3 separate regions of the Homo sapiens genome follow, and all the other regions are linked to region 2. Evidence: fine-mapped expression QTL. A gene starts in region 2. Each other region holds a variant in brackets. All regions are shown on one strand. Distances are from middle to middle.

Region 1 (4,244 bases), 36 kb before region 2:
CGCCATTAAGGAAGTCCTTGATGTCTACTGCTACCATTTAACACAGTACCAAGTTTTAGTTTGGTACATCGCTTATGCTGGAATACAAAAACAGGAGTGAGACTTACTATACATATTTTTTTAAAAAATCAAAAAGTTTATGGAGCAGAAGAAATAAAAATTAAGTAGTTTTAGAAGTTCTCAGTTGCTTGCTATTGCAAGTCCCAGAATGGAGTGAATCATGGAAAACTGTTGACAACACTCACACCTTGTATATCAGAAGGCACAAAATGATTATCCTTTTGAGAGAAATTTAAAAATATATTTCAAGAGTACTAAATATTCAGATCAAATGTGTTGGAGCTATAATTTGGGGCATCAACCATTGTAGGGAAAAATCAGATAAACAATCAAATAGGGTTATTGTGGCAGGTTGAATGGCTGAAGTGGTTTGAAAGGCATCTCCCGGAACCTGTGAATGTGAAACTGTGAACGTGACCTTGTTTAGAAAAAAAGTGTTTGTGGTTGTAATTAAGTTAAGGTTCTAGAGAGGAGAGCATCCTGAGTTAGGGTAGGCCCTAAATCCAATGCAAGTGTCCTTAAAAGGAAAGAAGAGAAGACAGAGTTCAAGGCTCTATGAAGATGAAGGCAGAGATGAGCCTCAGAAAGAGACAGAAGTTTAAGAAAAGCAGATTTACAAGCCATAATAACTAAGGATTTCCCAGAACTAAGGAAAAGAGCAAATAGGAAATTTGAAAATGTAGCACATTTAAAAATTTCTTTTTGATTGTTTTTAAATCCATAAGCAATGTTAAAAGATAAACAATAAATATTTATAATTCCTATTAAAGGCAAAGGACTAATTTTCTAAACATACAAAGAATTCTCTAAAAAAAAACTAAGAAACAAAAAACCTCCCCAATAGATGCGGCCCACAAACACATGAAAAAAAGCTCATCATCAATGGTCATTAGAGAAATGCAAATCAAAACCACAATGAGACACCATCTCACACCAGTTAGAATGGTGATCATTAAAAAGTCAGGGGCTGGGCACGGTGGCTCACGCCTGTAATCCCAGCACTTTGGGAGGCCGAGGCGGGCGGATCATGAGGTCAGGAGATGAAGACCATCCTGGCTAACACAGTGAAACACCATCTCTACTAAAAATATAAAAAATTAGCTAGGTGTGGTGGAGGGCACCCGTAGTCCCAGCTAAGCAGGAGGCTGAGGCAGGGGAATGGCGTGAACCCGGGAGGCGGAGCTTGCAGTGAGCCGAGATCACGCCACTGCACTCCAGCCTGGGCGACAGAGCGAGACTCTGTCTCAAATAAAAAAAAAAAAAAAGAAGTCAGGAAACAACAGATGCTGGAGAGGATGTGGAGAAATAGGAATGCCTTTACACTGTTGAAGGGAGTGTAAATTACTTCAACCATTGTAGAAGACAGCATGGCGATTCCTCAAGGACCTAGAACCAGAAATATCATTTGACCCAGCAATCCCATTACTGGGTATATACCCAAAGAATTATAAATCATTCTACTATAGAGACACATGCACACGTATGTTTACTGCAGCACTATTCACAACAGCAAAGACTTGGAACCAACCCAAATGCCCATCAATGATAGACTGGATAAGAAAATGTGGCACATGTACACCATGGAATACTATGCAGCCATAAAAAAGGATGAGGTCATGTCCTTTGCAGGGACATGGATGAAGCTGGAAACCATCATTCCCAACAAACTAACACAGGAACAGAAAACCAAATACCTCACGTTCTCACTTATAAGTGGGAGTTGAACAATGAAAACACATGGACACAGGGAGGGGAACATAACACACAGGGGCCTGTCACGGGGTGGAGGGCTAGAGGAGGGAGAGCATTAGGAGAAATACCTACTGTAGATGACGGGTTGATGGGTGCAGCAAACCACCATGGCACATGTATACCTATGTAACAAAACTGCACGTCCTGCACATGTATCTCAGCACTTAAAGTATTTAAAAATCTTTTGCCAAACAAAGAAGAAAGAAAAATCGGCAAAAGGCTTGAACAGATAGTTCAGGAAAAATAAACACCAATGGATCACAATCAAATAAAGGGATGTACGACAACCTTAGTCATGAGGGAAACACAAATTAAAACGAGATGTCACAAATAACTTTTCACAGTGGGGGAAAAATGTGATCACACATTTTATATTCTGAGGGACACAGCCACTCAATATTTTGCTATAAATCAGTACAATCAGCTGGGCATGGTAGCTTAACTCCCGTAGTCCCAGCTACTCAGGAGGTGAAGGTGGGAGGATTGCTTGAGCCCAGAAGTTCAATATCAGCGTGGGTGATATACATAGCAAGACCCGGTCACTTAAAAACAAACAAAACAAAAAAAATCAAAACAAAACTATGGAGGGTAAAAGTATAAACATATATACACTATTTCATCCATTTATTCCTCTTCTAAAAATTTACCCTAAAGACATACTTGCACTTGTACAAAATATATTACATATTACATCTTATATAATTATATACTTATACAGCAAAATTATTCATTGCACTACTGTCTGTAAAAGCTAATTGCTG[T/C]ATACTTACGTTGGTTCCAATAATAGGGGACTTTATGGAATTCTTTTGTCTATCTACAAAATGAAATACCAGAAAGATGCAGTGTTGTAGGACTCAGGGAGAGGAAGCACTTTAGGTATTCACACAGAAAGATCAAGGCATATATTTACATATTTAAAATTTCCACTCTTTGAGGCCCTAGTATGCCTGTAATCCCAGTGCTTTGGAAGGCCAAGGAGGAGGATCGCTTGAGCCCAGGAGTTTGAGTTTATAGTGAGCTATGATCTGGCTACTGCACTCCAGCCTGGGTGACAGAGCAAGACCCAGTCTCAAAACAATAAAAATTTCCACACCTTGACATTTCTGATTTGCCATTTTACAAATTGTACTAATGTAAATTGACACTGTGTTAGATTTGGCCTGTATAATAATATGTGTTATTGCTACAACATTGTTTATCAAGTACAAGAAAAAGAGATAAGAAAGGAAGGTTGGCTAGATTTTGGGCCAGGTGAGTCACTAACTTCAATTGGTACACATCCTAAAGTTTTAGAGCCACCTGTGATAAGCAAAAATCAGGAATGTTAACTCCTCAAAAATAAATTTTCAGTGCTTTCCTTCATTTACCCCAGTCATGAAAACTGGTGACTCCCAACATTCTTCAAAGTTCTAGTTCAAAAGCAAAAAAACCCAGCCAGCCACTGGTTTTCTTTAAAGCCTACGACCTCTAAGAACAGTGTTTAAATTTTTAAATGCATGAAAAACAATCAGAACAATACCTCATGACACATGAAACTTGTATGAAATTCAAATTTCAATGCCCTTAAAGGTTTGTTGAAAACAACCATGCCCATTTGTTTACATATTGTTGATGGCTGCTTTTTATTTTTATTTGTATGTTTTTGTGAAAGTTTTACAGAGTAAAACAGACGTGTACAAAGGATTTCCTCTTTCAGAAGATACCTCCTACAATAATTTTAATAGGACCAAGAGTTACCAAATATTGAGGATGTGCTAGGACAGCAGAGTTGAGTAGTGGCAACAGACATTCTGGTCTGTAAAACCTAAAATATTTACTAATTGATCTTTTACAGAAAAAGTTTGCCAACTTCTGTTTTACTCTGTCTCAGCTTATTCTGTTTTCAGATAAATGCAAATCAAACGCCATTTTCTAAAATAATTCTTCCTAGCAAAAATGAGAGTATCTACTGAATCTCAAAATTCTCCATCCATTTGATAATTCTTCATATTAAAATTACATTTAATCCCACATGGCATCAGCAATTAAATCAATTTTGTCATAAGCATGGTTAGTTACTTGGTTCATCAATGTCTCTTCCTTTGATTGGATGCATTGACTCATTCATTCATTTTTGCAGAAAATAATTCTGGGTGGTATGCTTTAGCTCTTGTGTGTCAAGAAATGTTTTGCCTTCACTCTATTCACCTTGTTGTAACACTTCTCATTATTTGAAATCACTCTGTTCAGGCATTTGTGTATCTACCATTTCTCTCACAACAAAGTAAAATACATAAAGTATAAAAATCTTTTCCAATTTGACCATAATTGCATCCTCACAAAAAAAGAACATAATGGTGAATATCTGAGTGATCATATTGTGCAGTGAATATACTCAATCATTCTTCACCAGCACCCTGTGATACAGCTGGGTTCAGTGGCTTATACCTATA
Region 2 (4,244 bases):
CATGGTTAAACGTTTCCTAATTCAAAAAATGGAAATGAAGGTAAACAAAAGTGTTAGTAATGAAATGTATACCTGGCCTACCTGTGTATACTCCTGCTGAATTTGGGTTACATTTAAAACCATACTTTAAGTGTTTTCATAGATCATGCTGCGGTCCTTGCATTCATGTTTGTATAGTGGCTGCCTTGATTCTTTTTTTAGGAAACCAACCAAAACAACATAGAGGAACCCCGAGCCAAGGGACTCACATTTCAGTTGAACAAAATACCCATGAGAAACACTTAGACTCAAAACTTTCCAAACCAATTCATCCTTCTGAAAACAAACTCGACAGTCACTGGGGCCAACTGTTCAGCTAGAATTGGCAAAACTACGTTTGCAAAACTGAACCGTGAATCCCAGCACAAGTGAGTTACCAAAATTTTTCCTTCCAGGTGGAAACTCAATCCGAAAATCAAAAATCCCTCGAGTTGGAAGGCTCAATAAACCCACGGTTTTCAGTTCCAATGTTCCTGGCTTTTAAATATAAGCCCTCACAGACACGAAAACGGGACTGCAAGGTACATAAACAGATTGATCTGAAATGTTTCCAGCCCTTAATAACAACTCTATCTTAAAAGGTGCTCTTTAACTGTAATAAAACTAAGATAGCAAAAGGCAAAGGAAGCGTCTTGGGGTTTGGGCTCGCACACAGTCCTTGTGTTTTGCAAACTCTACCACGTAAGTGTAACTTAATTTGCAAAGAAGCAGAAGGACTGGCGCTTGCAATCAAGCATTGTGTTTTCTGGAAACCCAAGCCCAGGATGAATGAGCTTTAACTCTGTTGACTGCGTGTTTACTTGCATCCTCACGTGGCACCGCGCAGCCCAAAAGCGCTGCGCCGGGGACAGCGCGGGGAGCGCCTGAGAACCCGAAAACTTTACTTTGCAAACTAGTGGAGCTGGGAGGCAGCTCGGACGCAGATTCCCTTGCCTTTCCCTGAACTGCACCCATGCCAAGCACACGAGGTCTTTCCTAGCACCGCCCCCTGCCTACAGCTCCACACAAAGGCGCGTGGGTGCCGGCTGGACCCTGCTCCAAAGTTGAGCGGAGAGATAAGAAAGAGCCGAGCGGGAGAGGACCCAGCGTCGCGGGAGATACTCACAGGGTGACCGTGCGGTTGGGCAGAGTATCTGGGGGCAGGACCTGCGCGAGTTCCAGGCTGCTGCACACCACCTTGCCCTCGGCGGCGCCCGCCGCCCTGCCAGCCCCTCGGGGCCGCCCATCGTGCTTGCAGCCGGCGGGCAGCGCCGCGGCGCCGCCGCCGCCGCCGCCTCCCAGCAGCGCGAGCAGCGCTAACAGCGAGAGCGGCAGCAACAGCGGCGGCTGCGCGCGGCCCCGCCGGCGTCCGGGTGGCTCCATGCTGCGGGCCGGGGCCTGCGGGGCGAGCGGCGGCGCACTGGCCTAGCGGGCCGCCCCGGAGCCCGGGCGGGCAGGAGCGCGGCGCGGGCCCAGCGGCGACCGGAGCCTTATGGCGGCCGGAGGACGGGCCTTCCCCGGCGCGGACATGCTCCTTTGTCCGCTGCGGCTGCGCTGGGCCTCTAGGGAGCCGGGGGTCACGGCCGCATGGGTCCCAGCGCCGCTCTACCGCCCGGCGCGAGCACCGCCTCCTCCTCCTCCTCTGCCGCCGCCGCCGCCGCCACTGCCTCCTCCCCTGGCCAGGACCCGCGCGCGGCGGCTCCTCCCCGCCCGCCGCCGGCGGCCGCCCCCGCCCCTTCCCCTCCTCTTTCCCGGCTCTCCTGCTCTCCCCGTGTCTGCAGCTGCCCGGGACCTCGGGGAGGAGGCGCGCGCTCCCGGGACCTGCCGAGCCCGACTCCGACCCGGTGCGCGCCCGGGCCTCGGCCTCCGGGCAGGAGTTGTGGGGAGCCCGCGGGAAGGCAGTAACTCGTAGAGAGAACGGAGGAAAGTTCGAGTCCGAACGGAGGAAAGTTCGAGTCCAAACTCCACCCGCGGTGGCCACTCTCCTGCTCGTTTCCCTTCGCCGCCACCGCGCTCGCACCGCGGGCACAGGACAAAGCAGTCTTGTGCGCTCCTGGAGACTGCCCATGTGGCCCAAGGAGCCTGGCCCGGAGGATGGAGTAGGGACGAGAGTAGGGAATTTCCCTGACCAACCCTATGGGAAAAGTACCCAAAACCAAGTGTTTCGGAAGGAATCGCCTTCTCACCTCATTATGGTAGTCTTATTTGTCCCAAATACACTGGAGCCAGTAAACAGGTTCCTCTTCAATACAGTGAACAATCTGAAGCTGTTTCTGGCCTTCAGCAACAACAGCGATGGTCTCTAAAGGATGCATCTGGACCTCACTAGAAAGGCAGCCTTTTGAAAGAAATTCGACAGGCAAAGATACTTGAGATGTTCACCAGTTCGAGCAATAATGAGCAAACCCTCCAAGAAACCCCAACAGAATTGATTACTCTGACTTCCAGCCTCGCCCTAACATTTGCAAGCCCAGGGCTTACCTACCCTATGTTTAAAATTTTACAAGGACTATATCATGCTAATAAAATATATTCTGTGCTCCTGCCTTGAGAAATTACCTTCATAACAACCTGGAAGGTTTGTAAGCAGGATTCTCAGACACCTTGGAGTTTCTCCCTGAAACATGGCAGGTGGGAAAGAGTCAGATCCAAACCTTTGGCCTGTACACCTTCACCGTCTTTGCTTCCTGTGCCCAGCTATCTTCAAGGACAAGAGGGGATTTTTTGTACCTGTGTGTGAACACCGCAGCCCACAAAACCAAGTTCTGTTCACACTTTCTAACAGCCACCCTCTGTCTGCGTCTGGATCTCAGGTGTGCCTATACCAGTTGTTGGGTCCTTCATTGGGAGGACAGTTCTCAGAAGAAGCTAGCTCAGGGCCAAGAAGTGGCTTTGGTAATACCAGTCAGGGAATTCCAGGGTCCTGGGTCTTGGGGACATAGTGGGTACCCAGGCTTTGGGTGCTGGCCTGGAGATTTTTCACCCCATAAGAAGAGTCAGGTTGGTGTCCTCTAAAATGGAGGGCCTAGAACACGGTTTTTCTTGCTTGGGTCTAAGGACACTACTGCCTCTGGCCCCTACAAAATTTATCTTAGGGACCAATTTGCAGGAATCTGTTTATCTGGCTAGAGCTTTCTCAATGGGAAGTAAATAAATGGTCTCCATTTATCATTTATCAGTGTTGTATTAAATTTGAATAGCAGTTCATTTGACCAACCCAACCATGTCCAGTGCTGTCTAATAATACATTCTGTGATTGTATAGCTGTTCTAGTTCTTTGCTGTCTAATATGGTGGCCAACTGTGGCTACATAGTGTGTGGAATGTAGATAGTGTGCAATAAGAATTAAATTTTTCATTTCATTTTAATTAATTTACATTTGAATTTAAATGCCCAGTGGCTACCCTGTTGGTGTTGAACAACATAAGCCCAGACACTATGATGGGAAGAAAAAGTGGGAGATTATCTGCACCATTAAGTGACTTCGGATCTATAAATAACCTTAGCAGGCACACTGGTGCCTCTGTGTTAAGGTGGGTGAAATGGATCACATTTCTCTTGAATTTATCTGAAGAATTATTATTCCCTAACAAAATAATGATCTGTTTTTTGATTAAGATAAAACCTTACTACAGATTGAGCATTGAGCATCCCTAATCCAAAAATCCAAAACCTGAAATGCTCCAAAATCCAAAACTTTTTGAGTTCCGACAAGTAATACCTCAAGTGCAAAATTCCACACCTGGTCACATGTGATGGGTCACCATCAAAATGCAGACACACTATGCAGTTTACTAGCATCCCCAAGGGAAAAAAGCCCCTCCCAGCCCTTTTCTGCTGCTATATATCTTTTCAGGGCATGCCTAAATTCCCCCATGCAAGCGTGCCCCCCAAAGGTAATCAAATGGCATGCATGCAGGCTGGATTTGCCAACGACAAGTTCCCCACAATGCCCACACTGGGCCTTCATCTACGTGCATTACTCACTGTGGGTTTGCTTTTTTGTTGTTTTTTGGTTTTTGTTTTCCTTTTCTTTGCTCTGTGGTGTAAAGCTATTGTTAGTATAAAGAAATATCAGGCCGGGTGCAGTGGCTCACACCTGTACTTCCAGCACTTTGGGAGGCCAAGGCGGGCGGATCACGAGGTCAGGAGTTTGAGACCAGCCTGGCCAACATAGTGAAACCCCGTCTCTACTAAAAATACAAAAAAATCAGCCAGGTGTGGTG
Region 3 (4,244 bases), 130 kb after region 2:
GACCTGGGGTTAGAATCTTAAAACCTTAAACATCATATCTTTTATTAATATCATACAATTTCAACTCAAGATTATTTAGGAATAAACCAAGAAGAAAGGTGGTGCTCCTGATTCTTCAAACTCGGTTGATTCCTTCACTCTGTCTGCATCTCTGTTTACCCAAGGGATAAACAAAAAGATAGGAAAGGGGAGAAGAAAAGGCTTGCAACGTTTTTGTAGGGCCTTGGATCATTTGGTGTTGACTGGAGAAACTGCTGCCCACTGAGGGTGACTATGGAATTAGAGACCAAAGCCTGAGCTCTTCTACTAATGCAAATATCTTCCTACTTAGTAATTTTTATGTTCGATTTGTGCTTATTAAAAATCTTTTTATAGCACCCCTGAAAAATAAGTGAAGTCATGTGGCTATGTTAATACTGGGGGAGAAAGGAGGGGGGGGAAGTGAAGTAGTGAGGATCAATTAAAAATCAAAGGTCACCAGATACTTAGTAGGAAGACCTCAACCTGTCTGTTCATACCTGTGCCCAAAGACTGTATTCTGATATCAGTCCTGTAAATTTCTAAGTGACTGTATACTGGTCCAGTCACCCTTGAGCAAATTATTCAATTAGAATTTTTTGTCAGTATGTAGTATCTAATACAGAGTATCTAACAATAGGATTGTGGTGAGATTAAGTAAGAAAGCTTATATAAAGTGCTAAAACAGGGCATGGTTTGATAAAGGATAATAAGGAAGTTAGGAACATGGATCCTGCAACCAGATTTTCTGGATTCAAATACTAGACATACTGATTACCAGCTGGAAAGACATTTCACTTCCCATAGAAATTTCTGAGGATTAAATAAGTTAATCTATGTAAAATGCTTAGCGAAGTGGCTAATAGAAAGTGTCCAATAAATGTTAGCTACTAGTATACTGTGAGCATTGTAATCTACTCTCAAGATACTTTCAGATTTTTTTTAGCATCTATAATTTATTGTAGTCTGTTCTTGCATTGCTATAAAGAAATTACGTGAGACTGGGTAATTTGTAAGAGAAAAGGTTTAATTGGCTCACCATTCTGCATGCTTTTCAGGAAGCATGGCTCCCTCATCTGCTTGGTTTCAGGAGAGGCCTCAGGAAACTTGTAATCATGGTGGGAGATGAAGGGGGAGCAGGCACATCACATGGTGAAAGCAGGATCAAGAGAGAGGGAGGAGGTGCCACACACTTTTATTAAACAACCAGATCTCAGGAGAACTCACTCACTATCCCGAGGACAGTACCAAAAAGATGGGACTAAACCATTCATGAGAAATCTGCCCCCATGACCCAATCATCTCCCATCAGGCCCCACCTCCAACACTGTGGGGATTACATTTCACCGTGAGATTTGGGTGGGGCAGTATCCCAACTACATCATCTCTATTATATCATCTGCATTACATTCATCAGGTTCATTACCAAAGGTCATGTAACCTACCCTGTACAGTGTGTTAAAGGAAAATCCTTGGCGAAATTAAATTTAACAGAGTTTAACTGAGCAAAGAACAATTTGCTAATTCGGCAGCCTCCTTAACCAGAGTAGGCTCAGAGAGACTCCAGTACAGCCATATGGTGGAAGGAGATTCAGGGACAGGAAAAAGAAAGTGAGATAGAGAAAATGGAAGTGAGGTACAGAAACAGCTGGGTTGGTTACAGCTCAGCCGTTGCCATATTTGAATGCAGTTGGAACAGTTGGCCCCCTTTGCCCAAACTCGGTGATTGGTGCAAGTGTGGGCTATAGTAGGCTTATACCTTTATTTAGGTTATAGTTTACTATGTACAGAGAAATTTTTAGGCT[G/A]AACTTAAAATATTGTAAGGAGACAGCTTTAGGCTAAACTTGATTTAACAAGTGAAAATACAGAATTAGGAAATAACAATGTAATTAGAAGAATTCTTAGCATCTTCGTATGTTCAGTTCTCTTTATTTAGTTCATTACCTGCAATTAAAAACATTTTAATCACAAGTCTCTCAGTCTCAAACCTGTTGTTTTGCATTTGGTAAATGTCTGTTATTTCTAATAGATACTTGCATCATTTTATCATTTTTCGTATCTAATTTACTAATATTCTTCATGAAATTAGTTGGTTTCTTGAAGTGCTCCCCAGAGTTTTATTAGTTGACAGTTTCTTTGTTGATGATAGTAGCTTTGTTATCCTTGGAGAAAGTTTTCTACAATATTAATGGGAGTCTGAACTGATCTTCTAACCTTCCTAGATGCCTAGAAACAAGCTTTTTGTAGAAGGATAGCGATTATAGAACCTTTCTCAATTTTGCCAGTCAGACACCTTGAAGAAATCAATTAGTAGGCAAATTATTAACTAATTGAGCATTTAGAGTGTTCTTACTTTTGAAAAATCAATTAGGCCTTTGCCCTTAGTTTTGAAGCATTATTTCATTATTAATTGTTTTAAACAGCGGTTCATCTGCAGTGGATCCAGATCAGCTGACAGTTGTTTTTTGTTTATATTCTGTTCTTAATTGATTAATACAATGAGCTGAAAACCTTTAACATCATTGATCATGTCATGGAATGCTGAGTAATTGGCTGGCAAATGTGATTTTTAAAAATTAATGATTCAATGGTTCAAAGGAATTCAGTAGCAGATTGCAGTCAGCAAAAAAAGAGGATTTTCGGTATTTCTTCAACATGTATGATCTGAATGATAGTTCCACCTCATTCTTGGAGCCAATATTTTTTTTATCTTCATTAGTGATAATTTCTTGTACTATATTAAGCACAGTAGGTCACATTTATTTTAATGACACTTTTATTTCCACTGTGTAAACACGGCTTTTAAAGAAAATTTGAAAAGATTGCCGTTTGTTGTCAAACTGTTATCAGAACTACAAAAAGAAGATTAAATTTGTAGGATACAGTTTCATACTTTATAAGGTCTTCAAATGGAAGCAATGGTGGGAACTGGGTGGAACCAGGAGTTAGAGGTCTTAGCTCAGGAGTTTGCTCTTCTAAGAAACTTTTCCTGAACCTTGTCTCTGTAAGCTCTGAGTCCCTTTCTAGGCTCCCATGGCTCTTTAGATGTAGCTCTGTCCCTACAGTTGTCATAGTATTATTGGGTTTATTTGCATGGCTTCCTTGTTAGTGAGACTAAACTTTCAGAGGTCATGGACTTACTTACCTAAGCACTTTTATATGTTTAGTATGGCACCTTTTTTTGGAACAGAGTTGATGCTGAATAAATATTGGTTGACCAAATGCAAGGAAGTGTGTACACACACACACACAGGACATTTCATTTAGTCAGGAAAACATATTTTGGTTATACATATGAAAAATCCACTATTATTATGATTATGTATGTATGTATCTATCTATCTATCTAATTTACCTATCTTTCCTTAACATTTAAAATCAAAGTCCCTGAGTTTCCAAGATATATCTCACAAACATGTAAAATTTTTTCCTTTGGCAAAACCTCAGAGTTCAGCCAAGGTCTTAGGTCAACTGCTGAAAAGCATTTTAATCCGTGTTATCCCTGTGTCTTCAAACACTTCTTGAGCTAGAATTTTAAATCAGTGTTCTCCAAAATACATTTGATAGAAAAAAGTAACTCAAGGTATTACTAACAAAAGGATCAAATAAATTTGCAAAAACATGTTACATTTATCCCTTTGGAAAATGCACAATGTGCATTACAATATTACAGTTTCTCGGAAGTCCAGTCACAACTTTGCACATCCCAAATTTTTTTTACACTGAAATTCTTTTTTGTGAATCATTCACTAATATCTCTGGGAACTAATGGTCTATAGAATCTATTTTGAAAAATGCTGCTCTAACAACAAATAGGTCAGAGATTGTGATTTTTGTTGTGCTTCAGGTATGGAAAAAATGTGATGAGGAAAATCAAGGTCTTACAGACTGCTCACAGGCGTTCTAGCCTATTAGTATGGCAATTTTAACTGTTTCATTTTCCATGTATTTGTTGCTTTCTTTTTTAGTAATAGTTGTTTATTGCAGAAAACTTGAAAAACAGATAAAAAGAAAAAGGAAAAAGTCTTTCTGGCTGTTTTCTTTAAAAGGCTGCATCCTCAAATAGATTTGGGAAGTGTGGGGTTAAACAAAGTTAGACTTTTATGCCTTTTCAGGACTTTAATATGATTACTAATGGACAACTTGTTTCTCCACTGGGGCTATGGTATATGGTTTTTCCCAATTTTGTGAACACAGGCTGCTCTTATTTCTAAGCATTTTGGGGA

Direction of the effects. Alleles are on the strand shown, and positions count from the first base shown. SD is a standard deviation of normalised expression in the study named. Not every link is listed here.
In carriers of allele A in region 3, the expression in aorta of the gene that starts at base 1,683 in region 2 tends to be higher than with G alone (moderate effect, 0.72 SD a copy in GTEx).

Evidence for each region. PIP is the estimated chance that this variant, and not a neighbour inherited with it, causes the effect.
Region 1: its variant is the best candidate, but not a certain one, in a credible set for the expression of ADGRA3 in whole blood (INTERVAL, PIP 0.90).
Region 3: its variant is the best candidate, but not a certain one, in a credible set for the expression of ADGRA3 in aorta (GTEx, PIP 0.70).

The regions. Positions count from the first base shown.
Region 1 is chr4:22,478,157-22,482,400 of GRCh38, forward strand. The region is part of intron 1 of ADGRA3 (adhesion G protein-coupled receptor A3); the gene reads right to left. Among named protein-coding and RNA genes, the nearest start is that of MIR12115, 35 kb to the right of the region's middle. The variant T/C (reference allele first, on the strand shown) is at 2,574.
Region 2 is chr4:22,514,384-22,518,627 of GRCh38, forward strand. It overlaps ADGRA3 (adhesion G protein-coupled receptor A3), which reads right to left and starts at 1,683. Exons shown (of 19, transcript NM_145290.4): 1 at 1,145-1,683. The coding sequence starts at 1,401. MIR12115 (microRNA 12115) reads left to right here and starts at 929; the gene lies at 929-1,002.
Region 3 is chr4:22,642,504-22,646,747 of GRCh38, forward strand. No RefSeq gene overlaps it. Among named protein-coding and RNA genes, the nearest start is that of ADGRA3, 130 kb to the left of the region's middle. The variant G/A (reference allele first, on the strand shown) is at 1,824.